3 linked regions of the Homo sapiens genome follow. The protein of the gene in region 3 interacts with the protein of the main gene of each other region in a pairwise test. Each region holds a gene or a part of one and is shown on either strand. Other genes may lie near its edges.

The links. The genes of interacting proteins can lie anywhere in the genome.
Region 1: the proteins of KIR2DL3 (region 3) and LEUTX interact in binary tests that used the Homo sapiens proteins (3 or more experiments, as listed by UniProt).
Region 2: the proteins of KIR2DL3 (region 3) and TRAF3IP3 interact in binary tests that used the Homo sapiens proteins (3 or more experiments, as listed by UniProt).

What each region holds. Positions count from the first base shown.
Region 1 is NC_000019.10:39,781,160-39,787,436, reverse strand, and holds the end of LEUTX (paired-like homeodomain transcription factor LEUTX), read right to left. Parts: intron 2,911-6,277; coding exon 2,759-2,910; intron 1,740-2,758; coding exon 1,302-1,739; 3' UTR 1,146-1,301; downstream 1-1,145.
Region 2 is NC_000001.11:209,772,359-209,780,697, reverse strand, and holds part of TRAF3IP3 (TRAF3-interacting JNK-activating modulator), read right to left. Parts: intron 7,751-8,339; coding exon 7,679-7,750; intron 5,409-7,678; coding exon of another isoform or gene 5,350-5,408; coding exon 5,209-5,349; intron 5,125-5,208; coding exon of another isoform or gene 5,110-5,124; exon of another isoform or gene 5,100-5,109; coding exon 4,962-5,099; coding exon of another isoform or gene 4,574-4,961; intron 3,347-4,573; coding exon 3,211-3,346; intron 2,588-3,210; coding exon 2,525-2,587; intron 1,491-2,524; exon of another isoform or gene 1,384-1,490; coding exon 1,324-1,383; coding exon of another isoform or gene 1,295-1,323; exon of another isoform or gene 1,268-1,294; coding exon of another isoform or gene 1,245-1,267; exon of another isoform or gene 229-1,244; coding exon 92-228; exon of another isoform or gene 1-91. UniProt on the Homo sapiens protein: Adapter protein that plays essential roles in both innate and adaptive immunity. Plays a crucial role in the regulation of thymocyte development.
Region 3 is NC_000019.10:54,747,933-54,754,311, reverse strand, and holds the end of KIR2DL3 (killer cell immunoglobulin-like receptor 2DL3 precursor), read right to left. Parts: intron 2,664-6,379; coding exon 2,559-2,663; intron 2,097-2,558; coding exon 2,044-2,096; intron 1,946-2,043; coding exon 1,793-1,945; 3' UTR 1,260-1,792; downstream 1-1,259. UniProt on the Homo sapiens protein: Receptor on natural killer (NK) cells for HLA-C alleles (HLA-Cw1, HLA-Cw3 and HLA-Cw7). Inhibits the activity of NK cells thus preventing cell lysis.

The DNA.
Region 1 (6,277 bases), about 15 Mb from region 3:
GTTAAAAGCATGACTATCAAGCAGCAGCTGGAAGAGTGTGCTGGCAAATCCTTTTTGAGGAGTAACTGGGAGCTGTACATTTTGACCCCTTCTCTGCACTGCTCTGGTTGGGGGAGTGTGGTGGAGGAAGGCTAGCCCTGAAGTGCTTGTGTGCCTGCTTAAAACCACCTTTTTCTCTGTGAGCTAGGGAGACTCACATATGCCTAATCCCTTCCATTTCCAGAGCTAGGGGATTTAGGATGCAGTCCCTTGAGTGCAGGTATAAAAGTTGGGGTGCTCAATGTGTGGACAAACTTCTTCCAGGAGGAATTGATAGACCTGGATTTATTGCTGGGCTGAGCTGGGGTGAAGCTTTGGGTGGCACCTAGCTTCTGTTCAGGCTCTTGTAAGTCTGTAGTTTACCTACCTAGTCAACTCCCTGATGCAGGCTCGTTAGGAACTTAACCATCAACTGTTAGGGTGCTATATGTGTGGTTCACTGCTTCTCTCCTGGGGGAGAAGCTGGGAACTGGGGATTCCTTCCTGATTGTATGGCTCAGTGCCCAGGGTGGGTTTAGTGTTTCTGAGTGCTTCAGCTTTTGCTGCCTGTTTGATAAGACATTTTTTTTCTTGTCTTTTCTTCCTTTTCTTTTTTTTTTTTTTTGAGATGGAGTCTTACTCTGTCGCCCAGGCTGGAGTGCAGTGGTGCAATCTTGGCTCACGCAACCTCCGCCTCCCGGGTTCAAGCAATTCTCTTGCCTCAGCCTCCCAAGCAGCTGGGACTACAGGTGCCCACCACCACACCCAGCTAATTTTTTGTATTTTTAGTAGAGACAGCGTTTCACCATGTTAGCCGGGATGGTCTTGATCTCCTGACCTCGTGATCCACCCACCTTGGCCTCCCAAAGTGCTGGAATTACAGGCGTGAGCCACCGCGACTGGCCTGCTAAGACATTTTCTTAGTTGCCTGGTGTGTAGGAGTCTCTCCACTCACTTCTGACTTTCTTCCAGAGAGAACTGATGTAGGCACAGACGTTTATTCAGTCCATCAATCAGGAACCTCCTATGTCACTGTGTTCCTGGCGTCACTTCTCTGAATACAATCTTTAATGCTGAAATTTGGGTGAGGAGGCACTCAAATGGAGTTCAGAAAATGCAGGCAATGATGAAAGGTAGGGGAGTTCCTTTATTGTTTTTTCTACAGAAAAAGATAAATTCCCAGCCCCTGATCTACTTAGACTGGGGTCAAACCATTAAAGATGTGTGGAAATATGTCTCAGTGGGTCAGATCCAGACCTCCCCTAGAAGTGATGTGTAAGAAGTTACACTGAAGATTGGAGCTGGTCATACTCAAGGCATACTGGAAAAAGATATTGATTTAGGCTGCTGGTGTCATCTTCCCCTGGCAAGTCATAGATCTTTACAAATTCATCTATTTCAAAGAGAGTGGAGGCCCAAGGAGGATTTGAAGCCCCCAGACATATCTGTTCAATGTCATATGACTGAGAATCCCAGGATGAAACCCTCGCAGAGGCGCTGGCTCCTCCAGGATTCTTGATACCAGAAGGCTCACGTAGATCATGGTCATTTGCATCAGAGATTCCAGGACTTACTGGACGAATGTTTGCAGTAGTTATGGCTGAGGGAGTCTCCTCCTTCTTCACTGAAGTTGTCTGGTTTGCTGGCCCTAGTGATGGCCGTGTCTGCATTTGCTGCCGCTGCTGCCTCTTCCATTTGGCACGCTGGTTCTTGAACCAGATCTAAGGAGGGAGGAGGGGGGAGGTTAATAATGGATGTTGAGTATAAAGGGGCATCCTCATGTTCCTCAGGAATTCGGTTTTTTGGTGTGAGAGAGAGTCTCACATTTATTGGAACAAGGGAAGCCCTTTCTACTCTCTGCTGTCCTGGGTTTCAAGGGAAAAGTGGGTGTAGGATTGTACTAGCAATGGGTGGAATATGACCTAGATTGTGATGTATTAAATAGAAGGGTGTTTTTATTAGTGGTGTATTTTTTTTTTTTGAGACAAGCTACCACTCTGTCACCCAGCCTGGAGTGCAGTGCTGCAATCATAGCTCGCTGCAGCCTTGAACTCCTGGGCTTAAGCAATCCTCCTATCTCAGTCTCCCAAGTAGCTGGGACTACAGCCATGTGCCTCCATGTCTGGTTAATTTTTAATTTTTGTTTGTAAAGACATGGTCTTGCTATGTTGCCCAGGCTGGTCTTAAACTGGGCTTAAGCGATCCTCCTGCCTCCACCTCCCAAAGTGCTGGGATTACAAGTGTGAGCCACCATTCCTGGTGCCCAGAGAAAGTATTTTAAAGTCAGAGTATGGGGTGAGAGTTTAGCTTGGGTCATCTTTAGGGTTCATCCAGGTGTTCTCCCATGAATACTTTGTGGGAACTTAGTGACAGGCATCTGGATGACTGTGATGGTCCTGATTAAGCAGAACCCATCCTGAATACACAAGAACAGACCCAAATGGGAGTATCTGAGATCCAGCCTCAAAGAGTCCTGTGTAGCATGGTGGGTCTGGAGTTGGAAAGGTCTGGGTTCAAATTCCAACTCTTGTGTTTATAATGCTTGGAAGACAGCTCTTCTATGTGAGCTTTAGTGTTCCTCAATAAAGTGGGTGCTCATGACAATAAAAATATAAAGTGCTTAACATCTGTCCTTACACATAGCAATTGCCAATAAATAGGAACTGTTATAACAATGATCAAAAGTGTGTGTGAAGCTCTGGGTTAGGCGTGCTACCTACAGACACACTTGGGAACAGACCTTTACTACGGATAGATCAAGTTGTAGCTTTGAAGCCAGTTTCCCCATTGTAGCCAAACTTGGGTGCATGGTCTTTTCAAGCAATTCTCTCAATGCTGTGAGTTGTTTGGAGAGAAATCTTGTGCGTGGCCGACGATAACGCCTTGGCCCTTCTGCAGAGGGAACAGATAAAAGGCTTTCATTAAAAAAATTCGGAAGGAAATGAGGAGAGTACTACATCAAGGGAACACCTGTGGGACAAAAGAATCTGAACAACAGCCTTGAGCCCTAGACCGTCCCTCTGACAGAGCCTACACAAATGAGAAGGAACCAGAAAACCAAATCTGGTAATATGACAACACAAGGTTCTTTAACATCCCCAAAAAATCACATTAGTTCATCAGCAATGGATCCAAACCAAGAAGAAATCCGTGATATACCTGAAAAAGAATTCTGAAGGTCAGTTATTAAGCTAATCAAGGAGGCACCAGAGAAAAGTGAAGCCCAATTTAAGGAAATTAAAAAAAAAGATACAAGAAATGAGGGGAGAAATCTTCAGTGAAATAGAGAGCATAAATAAAAAATAATAAAAACTTTAGGAGACAATGGACGCCCTTTTATCCACTAGACCTAAGAAATGAGATAGACAGCAACACAATGACCAAGAACCCAAAAGCAAATGCAATAAAAACAAAGATAAATAGCTAGGACTTTATTAAACTAAAGAGATTTTGCATGGCAAAAGGAACAGCAGAGTTCTAGACAACCCACAGTCTAGAAGAAAATCTTCACAATCTATACATTTGACAAATGACTAATATCCAGAATCTGCAACGAACTCAAACAAATTAGCAAGAAAAAAACCAAACAATTCCATCAAAAAGTGGGCTAAGGACATGAATGACATGAATAGATAATTCTCAAAAGATATACAAATGGCCAACAAACATGAAAAAATGCTCAACATCACAAATGATTAGGGAAATGCAAATCGAAACCACAAGAATGGCCATAATAAAAAAAATAAAAAAAAATAGATGTTGGCGTGGATGCAGTGAACAGGCAACACTTCTACACTGCTGGTGGCAGTGTAAACTAGTACAGCCACTATGGAAAACAGTGTAAAGATTCCTTCAAGAACTATAAGTAGAACTACCATTCGATCCAGCAATCCAACTACTGGCTATCTACCCAGAGGAAAATAAGTCATTATACAAAAAAGATACTTGCACATGTATGTTTATAGCAGTACAATTCGCAATTGTAAAAATGTGGAACCAACCCAAATGTCCATCAATTGAGTGGATAAGCTGTGGTGTGTGTGTGTGTGTGTGTATATATATATATGTATATATATATAATAATTTATGTATAATGTATATAAATTATATTGTATATAATTATATATAATACAAATATTATAATTTATATATATATAATTTATATATATATAAATTATATGATGGAATGCCACTCAGCCATAAAAATGAATTAATGATATTTGTAACAACCTGGATTAGATTGGAGACCATTATTCTAAGTGAAGTAACTCAGGAATGGAAAACCAAACATCATATGTTCACACTCATAAGTGGGAGCTAAGCTATGAGGATGTAAGGGCATAAGAATGACACAATGGACTTTGGGGATTCGGGGGAAAGGGTGGGAAGGGGGTGAGGGATAAAAGACTACAAATATGGTGCAGTGTATGCTGCTCGGTTGGTGGGTGCACCAAAATCTCACAAATCACCACTAAAGAACTTACTCATGTAACCAAACACCACTTGTTCCCCAATAGCCTACGAAAATACAAAAAAAAATTTAAAAATGTTTTATTAGAATGCAAATATGTATATTCCAAAGGTAAGCTTCTTTCCTAAGCTTGACCTGTGAATCAAGAGCTTAGGCTAAACATTTGACTCACGAGACCCACTCCTCACTCTCTTGCTGGGAGTGTTCTGCATTCCTAGAAAATCAGTGCCAACTTCCACTGAGCAGGACATGTTTTTAAGCCACAGATGGGATAAGCTTATTTTGGTGGCCTCATCCTACAGCCCCTGGAGGAGGAACATCAACCTCTCCATGACATTGGGCACCAATATGTTTTCCTAGCAACTTGGGGACATCTTTCTGTTTCTCATGCTGCTAATAAAGACATACCTGAAACTGGGTAATTTATAAAGGAAAGAAGTTTAATGGACTCACAGTTCCACATGGCTGGGGAGGCCTCACAATCATGGTGGAAAGCAAGGAGGAGCAAAGCCACATCTTACGTGGTGGCAAGCAAGAGAGGGAATGAGACCTAAGCAAAAGGGGAAACCTCTTATAAAACCATCAGATCTTATGAGACTTATTCATTACCATGAGCACCGTATGGGGGAAACCGCCCCATGATTCAGTTATCTCCCACCGGATCCTTCCCACAACGCATGGGAATTATGGGAGCTACAATTCAAGATGAGATTTGGGTGAGTCCTTATTGAGATAGAATAGAATAGTGGCATGATGTTGACACCAGGTTTATATGAGTCTATAAGATTCATAAGAGTATTTGAGGCCCTATTATCCTAACCGGTCATAGACTCAGTGGCACTGCTGTCTATGTTGATTGGCTTGTGAGACCCTGAAGCTATTGGTTTGGCCATTTATTAATGGGGTCTGTAGGGAAGGAGATATGAAGCTTAGTGACCTAAGAATGAATGTCGATTCTCTCATTTACTAGCTCTGTGACTTTGGCAGCATCAGTACACTTATACTGTTTGCCTCCGTATCTTTAACAATAACATGGTCCCAGAAAGCTCACTCCTTTAGGGAAGATGTGAGTAACCAAAGAAGCAAGTCTGTTAATTACAGGCTTGGTGCATGTGTTAGTCCATTTTGCATTTATAAAGAATTACCTAAAACTGGGTAAATTAGAAAAGAGGAATTAATTGGTTCACAGCTCTGCAGGCTATACACAAAGCATAGTGCTGGCATCTGCTTCTGGTGAGGGCCTTAGGAAGCTTCCACTCATGACAGAAGGCGAAGGGGAGCCAAGGTGTTACATGGTGAGAGTGGGAGCAAGAGACAGCAGGGGAAGGTCCCAGACTCTTTTAAACAACCAGATCTCAGGTGAACTTAGAGATAGAGAACCCACTCATTACCATGAGGATGGCACTAAGCCATTCAGAGGGATCTGCTCTCATGATCCAAACCCCTTCCACCAGGCCCACCTCCAACACTGGGGATCACATTTCAACATGAGATTTGGAGGGGACAAATATGCAAACTGTATTAGTGCATAATGGGAGTTTTTACTATGGTTTAGAATATAAATAAGACCTCATCATCTAGTAAAACCTGATTCTCATGGTCATCTATTTTATAGGAAAGTTTCTATTTTCAGGATGCTCTTATTCCTCATGCAAATACATGGAAAAACAGAAGCCAACATGCTGCCCAATTATCGCACAGTGAAGACAAGTGATCGGGCACATGGGTTTCTCTTAGTGTCTCAGCATTTGTTTAGACACAAAGGGAGAACAAAAATTTACAGGACAT
Region 2 (8,339 bases), on a different chromosome or scaffold from region 3:
TTAAACTTTGAAATCCCTGCTTTTTGACTGCCTCCCAGGTTTCTCTGCTATTTCGCAAATGAGCCCTCACTATCTCAGGTCACCCTCTCACCTCCTTTTCCTTGGCCTGGAGCTGCAAAGTCTTCTTTTGCAGCTGGTCTCTGAGATCCCAGTCTTTCTCCTTCCCTGTACCCTCAGGCTCCACTTCGTTAGGGAAGGACTTTGGACTCCACACGGGCAAAGCCTGATCTAAAAAAGCAGCCAGATTCTTGGTGACAGTGAGGCCCACACCTCTGAGGAAGGGCCCTGAGGGTGAAACCACTAGGAGTGGGGAGAGGGGAGGGAACTTGGGAGGGCGTGCTCTTGGCTAGACTGATGGCATTCTCTGACATAAAGGTTAACTTCCAGTAGGCCCCTGCTAAGCTTGGACAGACAGCTGGAATCTGAGCTCCTTGAGGGCAAGATTGGGATCTTTTCTTTGTATCCCCAGTCTTATCTAGTGCTAGATAGTTTTAGTGAATACTTCTTAATTGAATTTCATTGGTTGTATGTCACATTCTTCCTAGTTTGTCAAATAAGTTTGGTAAATGCTTTAATACAATCCCTTTTCCCTGATGTCCTCATTTGAAAGTTGTGAAGATGGCAGTCATATCCTAAAATTTATCTTCATATGGTTAAAGATGGTTTTTTAGCCACCCTGCAGTCTTAGTCTTGGTGAAAAGAGCATGGACTAGGAGTCAGAAGTTTTGGATTGTTGTTATAGCTGTGTTGTTAGTTTGTGTCACCATAGACTTTCATGTTCTTATCCATACTCTGTGAGCATAAAAATTTCTGCCTTATCTATTATATTATGCCCAATGATTGTGAAGAGAAAACAAAAGGTCGTGTGTAGTGGACAGGTGAGGAGCTATTGCCCCTCTGTATACACAGTGAATTCTCAGGAAACATGGACAGTAGACTCTCTAGGGCTAACAGTGAGTTGACTCTGGACTGCTATGTGGTTTGGGGCTGGGGAGTTGGATGTGATTTGGAAAATCAAGTGTGTAAAAATTGACATGAAATCCTGAGTTCAAAATAAATTTATTGAAATGTTCAACACAGACATGTGCTTTCAGAGAGAATAGAAACCCTTTTTCACAGTTTATATACCTCAAGATAGAAGGCTAACTAGTTGAAGTGTCCTCAGAGCCAATGATCAGTCCTTAAAAAGCTCCCACACATCCCGGACTTAACAGACTCCCAGAACTGGCTGGGACTCCAGGAGGTCATGTAGTCCATCCCGCTGCCTCTAGGCAGGTAAGAGAAGAGCAATATCTTAGAATTTGTGGTAATAAATTTGCTGACCTTTCTTTGTTAAGAGTTTCTCCTGTTCTTGAAGCTGTAAGGATTGATTTTGAAGCAAACCTGTTGGAAAACACAAGGAACTTGTCTATGCTAGCATATTTACTACAAAAAGTTTTCTTTTCAGAACTTTGCTTAGAACCTTGGTTATTAAATATGTTCCCATCTGCTGTGTGTTGAATTTTGTCCCCCAGAATATATATGTTGAAGTCCTAACCCTCAGTACCTTAAATAATGACCTTATTTGGAGATAGATTCTTTAAAAGATAATCAAGTTAAAATGGGGTCATTCAGGTGGGCCCCAATCTAATATCACTGGTGTCCTTATAAGAAGGGGAAATATGGACACAGATATGTTCATGGGAAAGACAATGTGAAGAGACACAGAGAGAAGACGGCCATCTACAAAGCCAAGGAAAGAGCCCTGGGATAGATCTTTCCCTAAACGCCCTCAGAAGGAAACAACCCTGCTGACATCTTGGATTTCTAGTCTCCAGAACTGTGAGACAATACATTTCTGTTCTTCAAGGCACCCAGTCTGTGGTACTTTGCTATGAATATAGCATCCTTATATCTCCCCCTACCATGTCTCTATCTTCAAGTCTTTGCTTGAAGATTTTCCCTTTTCCCTGTGGTTGCTTTGCTCTCTTAATAATCATTGCTGCTTTCATGAAGCTTCTCTATCAGGTGTCAGAGGTTAAAGTGGTGGGCAACCAGCAGCTGTATTAATTGAGTCAGGTTCTCCAGCTTTTCAGAAACTGCTTTTCTTCTGAGAAGTCCCTTTTCCTCTTTGGGCCCAATATGTAGTTTTGAAGTGGATTGAGGCACGTATAGTGTAAGCTTATTTTCTAAACCATCTCTAATGACAGGTCTATGTGACACATTCATGTACATAAATTAGAATATATAAAATAAGAACTGCTTTAGGAAACCCAGTATTTAAAAAAAATCTGCAGTTCTAGGGGAAATGTAAGTGGTGTCATTGGCATGGAAGGAGAACAGTAGAAAAAAAAGAACAGAGGCTAACACATAATTTATGGAGAGCTATGTAAATGACCTCACTTTACAAGAAGAGGGTCTGAAAGTGCACAGAGTTAGAGCATATGCCAAAGACTGGGCCCTTAGTCCCTACTCTGGGTGCCTTTTGTGGGCCAGGACCCCAGGAAAACCCTGTGGACTTTCAGAATCTGGAAAGCGAACTTACCCTGCAACTGCTGTACTCTGGTCACCAGGGTGAGTTTCTCTGCCTCTGACCTTTTTAGTTGATCTGAAAATGCAATAATGCAAGCCAAAATAAAGGAACCCAAGACTTAATGAACTCAGTACTTAGGATGGAAATTAGTAATAGATGCTGTCTTGTCATGGTCTTTAACGTGTGTCTATTGGAAGTTGCTCTATCTTCGTGTCCCAGTTCTGAAGAGGTAAACCAGAAGCCAAGTACCTCAGGTTTTTGTGCATCAACAATGTTGGGTTGCATTGAGGCTTGTGTTTACACACTATCTAGTCCTCTCTATCAGCGGACACAGAGGATGTGACTGAGAGACTTTCTCTATGCCTTGTGTTTCAACTGACCTTTCCCTTTCAAATTAGGACTGTGGCCTTGACATATGTGACTGATGTGGGAGCAGCTGTGATCTGGCCCAGAGGGATGGGCTAAAAAAGAGAGCTCAGACAACAAGATACTCTATCTACTACAGTGAAATTAATTTTCAATTTTGGATGATTAAAACAGTCCTGCCTCTCCCTCAAGGTAAAATGAGATTATAAAGCCAATCAACCAATCAAGCAAACAAATAAAAGGCTGAAGCCTTTCTCTTAATTCAGTTTCTTTTTTCTTAGCTCACTTGGCCATGGCTGCCATGCACTCAAGGCCTCCAAGGAGAAGAGTACCTTGTAGGTCCTGGGTATCCAAGCTGCACAGGTCTCTGTCCCCTTGCAGGCATTCAATCTTGGCCTGCAGTTGCTGGTGCTCATTTTCCAAAAATCGCAGGGCCTGGTTCATCTGTAAGTCCCTGCTATCTGCTCCCTGTAAGGAGGAGGAAGGGCCAATATAGAAGGAGGTCAGTGTTGGGGTGGAGGTTGGGGGGCGGGTACCATGGAAGAGGAAAATGTAGAAAAGTCTGGAATTTTAGAGATAGAAGGAATGTTAGGGAGATGAGAAAATAGAGAAGTCTTTCTTTTTTCCTATTTCTTCCCTTTGCTTTGTTCCTCATATTTATAACAGCAGATTAGACTTTTGATATTCACAAGGAACTCGCGTCTTTTATTTATTTATTTTTATTTTTAGAGATGGGGTCTCACTTTGTCACCCAGACTGGAGTGCAGTGGTGCCATCATAGCACATTGCAGCCTCGACCTCTTGGGCTCAAGCAATCCTCCCATCTTAGCCTTCTGAGTAGCTGGGACTACAGGCATTTGCCAGTAGTTTTGAAGTGGACTGAGGCATGTGCAGTGTAAGTTTATTTTCTAAACCATCCCTAGTGACAGGTCTAAGTGACACATTCATGTACATAAATTAGAATATATAAAATAAGAATTGCTTTAGGAAACCCAGTACGTTAAAAAATCTGCCATTCTAGGGGAAATGTAAGTGGTTGTCATTGGTGTGGGAGTCATGTCTTGACACTTTGGTAAATCACCAAATTAAGGAATACAAAGTCATTAGTTTTCTGGATGTTTTCATTTTCTCTTTTTTCTACTTCTGGCAGTATCAGTTTTTTTTTTGGTTAGGGTCTTTTTTTTTCCACAAAGATTTAAAGTTAAAAAACCCCTCACAAAAATCTTCATAGGAGTTGCCTTATAGGTGATGGGAAGAAGAAAACAACAAAGGTTGAGCTGTGGATACCACGCAGAGTGACCAGCTGGGTTCACTCCTTTGATAAGACTCACATACTCTGTCTCTTATCAAGTGGGCTGTTCTGAGCCCTGCTTCAGGAAAATTACAAAGATCAGCTTTTGAGGTGGATCCTCAAAATTCCAAACCAGGTAAATAAATCTATGCAAAATAATAGCTAATATTTACTGAGTGTTTTTGTGTGCCAGGCATTGTGCTAAGTGCTTTACATGGATCATCTTACTTAATACTCAGAACCACCTTATGATGTAGGTACTATTATCCTCATTTTAGAGATGGGGAAACTGAGGCTTAGGACAGATTGAAGATGATGGAACCCTTGAGGATGCCAAGAATCTAATTGTAATTGCTAAATGTAATTGCTTAAAATACACATTGGCAGAAAGTGTTAATACTCACCTGTAAATAAATTAGTGACATTCTTTCTTTGCCAACAGTGGGCAATTCTGAACTGGATGCTTTTTTGGGATGGAGTTTGGAGAGTGGGTTGGGAGATGACATTAGTAGGCTGATGAATATTCCAGCCAGTTCTTTTCATTTGGGTGGTGATGGTGTCATTCCAATGAACGCTTAGTTCATTTGCATGAGCAATGCAGACATCCTTGCTAAACTCAAAATTAGATTTCAGAGCCAAAACAGTGAATTTGGTACAAAGTAGTGGTGACTGAGGAACTGAAAGCCAGATGCTGTCAGCTGCCTTTGGAGTCCCTAATCCAGAACAGCTTCTTTCATCACCATCCCTCCTCCCCATACCCTGTCTTCCCTCCCCACCCCCAGTGCCTGGTACCTGCAGTTTGGACTGAAGCACGTGGAGTTGGCTCTCCAGCTCCCTGTGCTGGGTCCCAAGGGTCCTCCAGTCCTCCTTCAGAGCCTCATACTGGCTCCTCCACTCTTCACACTTCTGCTCTGCCAGGGCCAGGGATCGCTGAGGGAGATCAGAGAGGAGAGGGCTCCAGGGAGTTGTGCAGCTGGCTCCCCTTGTTCCCCAAGCTGCCTGGAGTCCCCAGCCCCATGTCTATGTGGCATCCCCATACCTGTGTGCTCTGTAGTTGCTGCTCTGCATTCATTTTCTCCTCCAGCACTTTCTGCAGTGACTCCTTGGCCTTCTGCTCATAGCTGTTTTTCTGGTCTTCCATCTCCAGTAGTACTTTTTTCATTCCCCAAGGGGAGTATTTCTGTAAATTTGATGCAATTCAACAAATACACATTGAGCTTCTGTGTGCCAAATCCTGAGCTGGGATACAGAAATGAAAAGAAGTTGGTTCTTCCCCCAGGCAGAGATACCAGTAATCTAGTGAGCCATTTCTTTTAGGGTAGAGCTAGCAAGAAGAGTCCCTCAGGCAATGAGAGATGAGTGGAGGGCATAATAAACAGTGCCCTAGGCTTCCTGGGCATTATATCTGAGGCCTTCTGCAAGCTCTTGGAATCCAAGATGTCTAAACAGGACTCATCTTTCTAAACATGTTCTTTTTTCTTGGGGTTCCTATCTCAGTGACCAGAATCATCATCCATCCAGGCTTTTCCAAACCCTAAACCAGGGAGTCAATCTTCATTTTCTCTCTCACTTCCTCCCCCTCTAATCAGTTGGTCATTGAGCCTTGACAATTTCCTTAACAGCTCATATCTGTCTCCTCTCTATCCCTACTGCTGCTTCCTTAGTTCAGGCTCTAGTAGTAGTGTTATGTGGATTAATGCAACAGCCTCCCTTTCTTCAAATCTTGCCTCCCTTCAGTCCCTTTTCAGTTCTGCATTTAGAGGGTTCTTTCTAAAATGCAAATCTGATCTTGCCACTTCCTGTATAAATCTCTCCATGGATTCTCAGCATACTAAGAATCACATCCAAACTCCTTGTCATGGCTCCTCTTACACGCCTAGACTTTCATCCCATGCTACTTCCACCTAAGCTGAGATGTTTGCAGATCCCCCAGCACTCTGTTTTTTGGGGCTCTGCCTTTACCCATGTAGCTTCTTCTGCCTACAGCCAGTTAACTTCTACTAATACTCAAGATTCAGTCCAGTATCATCAGTTCTGATAAATTGACCAACTACCCCCATCCCACAATGTCTTATGGATTAGGTAGCTTTTCTTAGGGTTCATGGTGTTCACATAGTATCCCCTGCATGCCTCTATTATTCTACTCTATTGACTCATCTGTCTTTCATACTGGATTGTAAACTCCTTCAGGGAGGGAGCATACTGCTGCTGCTTTAAAAAAAAATCATTGTAGCTTCTTTACAATGCCTAATGAACTTCATGTTTTAAAATTAATACATTTGCATTATAAAATTCCTCCTGGCTGCAGGATTAAGGAGACACAAGCGCAGCTTTGCAAATTCACTGGGGGTCTTGCCTTCTCCCTTTCTTTCATCTTTATGCCCTGTGATTTCGGAGAAGGCAGGCAGATTTTATTGTCAATTCTGGATTACCTACTGTGTAAGCAGTAGACCAGATGACAACAATTTAGGGATCAATATGAAATCATTTCCATTTAGCTTTGGAATTGTCTGAAATTTTGGATTTAAATTTGAGTGGGTCTTATAGTTTTGGAACTTTCATTAAAAACCAGATCCAGGAATTAACCTGGTTGAGGTCATATGTAGGGGATGTCCCAGTTATTGGACATCCAATGACCATCCATGCTGGGCACTGGTTATGTGTTATTCCCTATTGAAAATGAATAGACTGGCATTCTGGATTATATATTAGTCTCCTGTGAACTTGGTTGGCATTATTTAGTCCTGACAAAGCAAGTTATACTGAAAAAATGAAAGTTGTGGACCAAGAAACTTATAGACTCCATAAACTCTCTTCCCCTGTAAGACGCCATCAATGTGGCCAGGACTGTCTTCTCTCTCTAACTCCAGATGGGAGAATTCTGCCTGTTTCACCCCATTCTCTGATTTGATATCTTCCCACCTGTCAGGTATCCATCACTTCTCAAATGTGAAAGCTGATTTCTTTCTATCTCTTATAAACCAAGATTAGGCCAATCAAGAGATTACTAATGCTGGAAAATGGTGTTACAGAAGAGCCAAGTAAAAGAGCTTTTACATTCTTCCAGGGGTTGCTAGAAAAAACAGAAAAAAGTTACCCATGGAATGAAAATAATTTTGTAAGACTTCATTATAACATCTAACTCATCTGTTCAAAGATTAGGATGCGTAAAGGGCTGTCTGGGTGATGTGAGTCTTTACCAAGGGCCTTCCCCTACAGTGTCAGGTATTCTCAAGGTTCCCCTGGAGCTGACAAACTGGTTAGTGCTGGGATTCCTCCAGGGTGCAAAGAGAAGGATACTGGGAGAAAGGGAGAGGAAGAAGGATGGAGACAGTGATCTAGTGAATTAGAGACTAAAGTGTAAATGGCCAAGCCAGAAATGGGTAAGTAGGAATGGGTGTGTTATTCTCTATCTGGTGGTGTTTCTCGAAAGTAAGATTGAGGTTCAAAAACATTCTTCTCATTTAATTCTAGATTCCTGAGATGGAAGTATCCTTCAGAATGCTTACCTGGGTACAGGTGTATAGCTGGTTTTCTAAGGATCTCAGTTTCCCCTTCAGTTTGTCTTCATTAAGCTGTCCCTGGAGCAAATGGGATGAGTTAATGAGCTTGGGGCAAAATCTAGTCTGCAAAGAGTTTGACTCTATATTCCTATTCTACTGCCCAGCACATGGTTGGTGCTCAAACAGTGAACTCTTTCAGGAGGCAGGCAGGAGCAAAGATGACAAAGGATGCTGGATAGAAGAGGATCTTCTCCTGTTTCTCTGGACTAGGACAAGAAAGAATAAGACTGGCCTCAAGTCCTCTTTTTACCTCGATTTTTATCAAATGGCTCAGGGTAGCATAGCAGGGGGGCCCCGGAAGGAAAGCTTCTAAGCTACCCTTTCGCTCACTATCTCCCTCCCCTGTCTAGGCACTTCTGCACTCCTCACCTCTTCTCAGTCTTGTACGTGGACTTTTCCCTGTAAAATGTAGGCCAGTGAGGCTAACGCAGTCTCCCCTCCCGGGAGAATGTTTATTCCCTCCCTTGCCCTCGGTTATGAGCTCATTTATATCTCCTCAACATTTCTATGTTGAAGTCCTAAGCCCCGAGTGCCCCAGAATGTGACCATATTTGGAGAAAGGGTCTTTAAAGATGTAGTTAAGTTAAAATGAGGCCATTAAGCTGGC
Region 3 (6,379 bases):
ACGTCGGGAAGCCGAGGTGGGCGGATCAACTGAGATGAGGGGATTGAGAGCAGCCTGGCCAACATAGTGAAACCGTGTCTCTGCTAAAAATCCAAAAATTAGCCATGCCTGGTGGCAGGCACCTGTAACGCCAGCTACTCAAGAGGCTGAGGCACGAGAATCGCTTGAACCTGGGAGGCGGAGGTTGCAGTGAGCTGAGATTGTGTCACTGCAGTCCAGCCTGGGCGACAGAGCAAGACTCCGCCTCAAGAAAAAAAAAAGCAAATAGCCTATAATAACAAATTAGAGGGCTCTGGCTACTAAATTTAAAGGGTTCTATAAGGCTACATAAAGTGTAGCATCATCAAGTGTGTGGACACAGACAGCCCCTTAGCAGAAACTGTCTAAAATACATCCATGTACACACAGTCCCTTTAGAGTTGACAAAGGCTGCCGTGTGGTTTAAGGTGGCATAGAATGTCTTCTCAATAAATAATATTAAACCAATGGGTTACACCTAGTAAAAAATAAATCTAACTCACACTATAAAAACACTTCTTAGTTTTTATCTAGTTGTACATTTTTTGATTTATATTTAAATTTGAGAAATAAAAGTCATATACGGTCATCCTTCACTATTCGTGGGTGATTGGTTTCGAGATCTCCACTCAGATACCAAAATCTGTAGATGCTCAAGCCTCTTATATGAAATGGCACAGCGCTTGCAAATAACATATGCACATCCTCCTGTATACATGAAATCATCTCTTGATTACTTATAATTCCTGATACAGCCTACACACAGCTTCATTTGTGTCCATTCAACATAGTTATGAGTTTTGGAACTCTGTGGATATTTTCTCTGAATATTTTTGATTTATACTTTGTTCAATAAAGACCTGTAAACCCCACAGATACGGAGGAGTGACCGTATATTTATAGTATGAAAGATGATGTGTTGATATGTGTCCCCATGGAGATGAGACTAACAAGGCCTATGACTCTACAAATGTTTCATCGTGGAATGACTCTGCCAGCTTTCCAGGTCTGCAGAGAGTAACAATGTCACTTGTTCATGTGATTCCCGATCCTTGGAACCTCCTATGTGCTGCATCTTTGGATGGAAATTGGAGTCCCAGAGACAAATGAGGCTCCACACTGCTTCCAGAAGCTCAGAGTCCAGAGGTGAGAACCCGGTGGAGAACAGATGGGATTATATGGACATGGTACTGATAACACCGGAAGCCTTAGGCAAGAAAAGAGTCCCATTACCTAAACCATGAGGGCAGACATGTTTATTTGAAGGAGGGAAAACTACATTGAAATTATTTTAAAAAATATATAAGTTTTACTGCTGACAGAAGGCTGAAAGCTAGTCTGAGGGGAGGTGGAACAGCATGAGGGAAGGTGGAACAGCACGTGTCTAAGTGCCGTGTTAAGAGGGAGCCTCTTGTATGTTTGGAATTGTGAGTTCCTCAGTGTGATTGCAGCCTCAAGTAGACTAGGAAGTAAGCCAGTTAGGTTGGAGAGGTGGGCAGGGGTCAAGTGAAATGGAGAATTGTGGGCTAAGCAAAGGAGTGTGTTTTCTCTCCAGCAGGCAGTGGGGACCTTAGACATTTGTAAGCAAGGGAGAGGCACGTTCAGATTTGTGGTGTGAGGAAGAGCGATGCCCTAAGATGCAGACTCACGCCTTCAGATTCCAGCTGCTGGTACATTGGAGCTGGCAACCCAGTTTTGAGACAGGGCTGTTGTCTCCCTAGAAGATCCCCTCAAGGCCTGACTGTGGTGCTCATGGGCAGGAGACAACTTTGGATCAGGGCTCAGCATTTGGAAGTTCCGTGTACACGATGATATCTGTTGGGGGTGTCTTGGGCCTCTGAGAAGGGCGAGTGATTTTTCTCTGTGTGAAAACGCAGTGATTCAACTGTGCATATGTCACCTCCTGAGGGTCTTGTTCATCAGAGTCCTGGAGAGAGGGAAATGCTGAGTGAGGGAGGGTGCTCACATTTTCCAGGACTCTTTGGGAATAACACTAGCCACGAGGCTGGGCCGAGGAGCACCTACCTCCCTGTTCACTGTTCTGTTCCCTGCAGGCTCTTGGTCCATTACAACAGCATCTGTAGAAGACGGAAGTCAACAAAACAGCTCAGAGGGCACTTCTGGGCCCTCATTTCATAAGCAGATACCAACATACAGGGGGAGACCATAGGAGCCTGAGGTCCCTCAGTTGCCAACAGCAGACTCAGACATTCTATCTCTCTGAGCTCAAGGACCCATCCCATGAATAGCTCTGAGTTCCCATCCCATTGATTCTGTCTCCCACTTTCTGCCTGTCATGGAACCTTCTCCTGGATGTGAGTGGCTGCAGGGGACATGAGGATACAGTTCAGAATCAGGCAATGGTCTGTGAGCTGAAGGCAGGGACAGGGAGTCTGGTGCTCTCTCTAGAAAGTCCTCCCTCTGTGGCTGCTGCCTTGGGCCAGGGACCATCCTGTCTGTGAGGAACACACACCTGAGTGCTCCCATCCTGCTTCCCCACATGGCCCTGAGCTCTCTGGCCTCTGCTTCGTGAGACTTACTTTTTTTGTTGCAGCACCAGCGATGAAGGAGAAAGAAGAGGAGGAGGATGAAGAGGATGATGACCACTGAGGTCCCAATCAGAACATGCAGGTGTCTGGGGTTACCTGGAAGAAGAGGAGACACCAATAAGAAGCTAATCATAGCAGTTCCTCTTTATGAATTGTCTCACATTTCTTGATTGACAGGTAACCACATACAACACCCCTTTAGGACAAGCACCCAGATGGAGGGAGACCCAGCTTTCTCCTGCTTTCTCAGTTATAGCTCTCATAGTAACCATAGAACGTGTTGAGGATACAACTACTTTAGTTGAGATGTTTGACCCCTTCAAACCTCACATTGAAATTTCACCCCCACTGTGGGAGGTTGGGCCTCTTGAGAGGTGTTTGGGTCATGGAGGTGGATCCATCATGAACAGACCAATGCTGTCCCAAGGAGACGGGGTTAGCAAGTTCCCCTTCTATTAGTTCCTGGAGAGCTGGTTGTTCAAAAGAGCTTGGAAGCTCCATCGCTCCCCCTCCCCCTTGCTCCCTCTCTTGCCGTGTGATCTCTGTGGTCTCTGCACAGACAGACCCTCCTTCCCTTCTGCCAGAGTGGGAGCAGCCTGAGGCCGTCACGAGAAATAGATGCTGGTGCCACGCTTCCAGTACAGCCTGCAGAACTGTGAGGCAAACCAATCTCTTTTCTCTAGAAGTTACCCAGGCTCAAGTGTTCCTTTAGAGCAACAAAAATGGACTAAGACAGCAACGTCCTGAGATCAGGAGGAACGTCTCAGAACAGCCTGGGCTGTCTTCCTGTTCTTCCTGGAGGAGGACGTCATGCAGTGCTTTAGCTGAGTGCTTCCTGTGGCTCCACAGTACAAAACCCAGGCTGGGCTGCTCTCTGGCTTCCCCCAGCTACACTGCAAATGGGGTGACTCCATATGTCCCGAGTAGCTTTTCTGAGCCTTGAGGGACTGGCTCACATTGAAATGTAGGTTTCTGTTGTCACTCGCTGCTTATCTGTTAGTAATGAACCTGCCTGTGTAATGTATTCTCTGTGTGTTCTGTCTCCCTGGAGTGACGGTGAGTGATAGGAATTGGCATAAGCCCAGGTGCAGTCCAGGAGGTATTTAGAGTCTTCTCTGGGAAGACTGCACTGGGATTGATACACAGCGAATGTGCTTTAGGATTTCTACATCCACAGCATTCTTGAATCAAACAACTTGCATTCTCCAAGAAAAGGAAACAAAAGTGAAATCAAGATAAAAAAAGCTAAGTAGAATTCTCTTATGTCAAATGGCCAGGAAATAGTGTTGAAGCCCGTGTGAAACGTGCTACTCTTTGTGATCTCGGGAGACACATGTTAGGCTGCTGTTCTACCCGAGAGGCTGGGGGAAGGACCACCCCCTCGGCCATCTATTGCTTCAATACCACCTGTCCTCCTGTGAATTAGTAGGAAAGGGGAGCAGGAGCTAGTGCTGGCACTGATCTCTGATTCCAAGATCTGGACTCACTCCAAGGAGTATCAATGTTTACCTCCCCATAGCCTATCTGAATCTCCACAGGTGATTGGAAGTAGGGGTGAGGTGGGGGATTTGGGTGAGTGGGCAAGTTTTTTGTTGCGATGAACAGAGCACTTTCTCTATTCCACGATCTGTGCTGGAGGATTCTGAGGGCTTTCACATTTTCTATGTGATCTCATTCTCACAGAAAGCCAAATAGGGAAGAGGTTTTAAGCTCATTGCCTAATGGATAAGATAAAGGATCAAAGAAGTAATTATAGAGAAATAGAAAAACGATGATTGGAATTCAGGTGCCTTTGTCATTCGTGTGTGTTTTATTATATTTATGTATTTCTTATTTTTATTTTTTGAGATAGAGTCTCCTTGTGTCCCCCAGGCTGGAGTGCAGTGATGCAATCTCCACTCACTGCAACCTCCACCTACTGGGTTGAAGTCATTCTCCTGCTTCATCCTCCAGAATAGGAGCTGGGATTACAGGGATGCACCATCGTGCTCGGCTAATTTTTGTATTTTTAGTAGAGATAGGGTTTCACCACGTTGGCCAGGCTGGTCTGGAACTCCTGACTTCATGGAATCCACCCACCTTGGCCTCCTGCAGTGCTAGGTTACAGGCGTGAGCCACTGTTCACAGACTTGTATATTATGCTATAATAAGTCTCTTCATTTCCACCACCACTCATATATCTGTCACTCCTTTGCCAGGTATTGATTTATGTGTAGGATGAATAAATCTCAGAAAGAAATTAATTAAGCGAGGATTAAACAAGTAGGAAAATCAAACCCAGTAAGCGTTTCCAGTCAATGATTCTACCTCACAAACATATCTTATATCCATCTACTTCATTCATTTAGTGTCTAAATCAGCACCACATTTCACCAGTGGGGTGGCAATTGCCTTTTCCACGGTCTCCTAGATTCCAGTTATGCAACTGAGCCTCCCTTATTTTCATGTCAGTCATATTAATCATGTAGGGATTCCTGGTTACCCCGAGGTGAATCCAATGGCTGTGAGTGTCAAACACACACTCCTTGTTGCTCCTTAGTTTCCTGTGTACCCAGTGTGCTCTCCGTCTCTCTACAGTCGTCTTGTCATTCTCCCCACATCATTCCCAGCATTTGAGGCAGAGCCTCTTCCTTCCACATCAGATTGTTTTCACCTTTGTGCCTTCACGGCTGACAGCTGTGTGTGCAAAATCCTTCCGCCAATCTTTCAGGGGTTCAATCCGTGTTTTTCATTAATGTCACAAATATCTGAATAGTGAGACCTTCTTTGTCACCTGAAATCATACACTCAGCATTATCTATTATTGATTTTGAATTCTGGCTGGGCACAGTGGCTCACGCCTGTAGTCCCATTACTTTGGCATGCTGAGACGGTCGGATCACTTGAGGTTGGGAGTTTCAGACAAGCTTGGCCAACGTGGTGAAACATCCTCTCTACAAAAAATATACAAAAAGAATTAGCCGGGCACGGTGGCAGTTGCCTGTAATCCCAGCTACTCGAGAGGCGGAGGCAGGAGAATCACTTGAATCCAGGAGACGCAGGTTGCAGTGAGCCAAGATCGTGACACTGCACTGTAGCCTGGAAGACAGAGGGCGACTCTGTCTCAATAAACAAAAGAACAAACAAAAAATAGATTTCATGCACAGATGCTTCCCAATGGATCATTCATTTATAGATCCACTTGTGCATTCATTTTCTGCCCTCCCATTTAACCATCTGCAATATCAGTGTCCCAAGGGCAGAAGCCAAATGCATCTTGTTCACCGTTTGTGGAAGGCAGGAGAATGCTGTCCCACCCCAAAATGTCCCTGTCCTAGCCTCCATAGCTTGTGAATATGTTATTTTACATGGAAAGGAGGAATGAAGATTGTAGATGGAATTGCGGTTGCTAATCAGCTGAACTTAAAACAAGGGTATCCTGGATGATTTCCAGGAGATTATGAGGGATTTTCATCTTGGTGAACCCAATAGAATCCCCAAGTTTTCAAAAGATAAGGAAGAAGGGAGAGCAGCATTCAGAGAAAGAGGTGTGGTAAGGAAGAAGGCACTGAGTGATGCCATGTGAGATGTGACCAGTCTTTGTGGGCTTTGAGGAAGGAGGAAGGGGAACAGGAGCCAAGGAACTGGGAGCCTTTAGAAGCTGGGATAAGTGAGAAGCAGATTCTTGCCTGGAATCCTCAGAGGGAAGGCAGCCTTGCTGTCACCTTGATTTTAGCCCAGTAAGATGCACTTCCTACTTTGAGCTACAGCACTGTAAGATAATTAAAAAACCGTTTTGTTTTCACCCACGAATCTTGTGGAAATTTGTTATG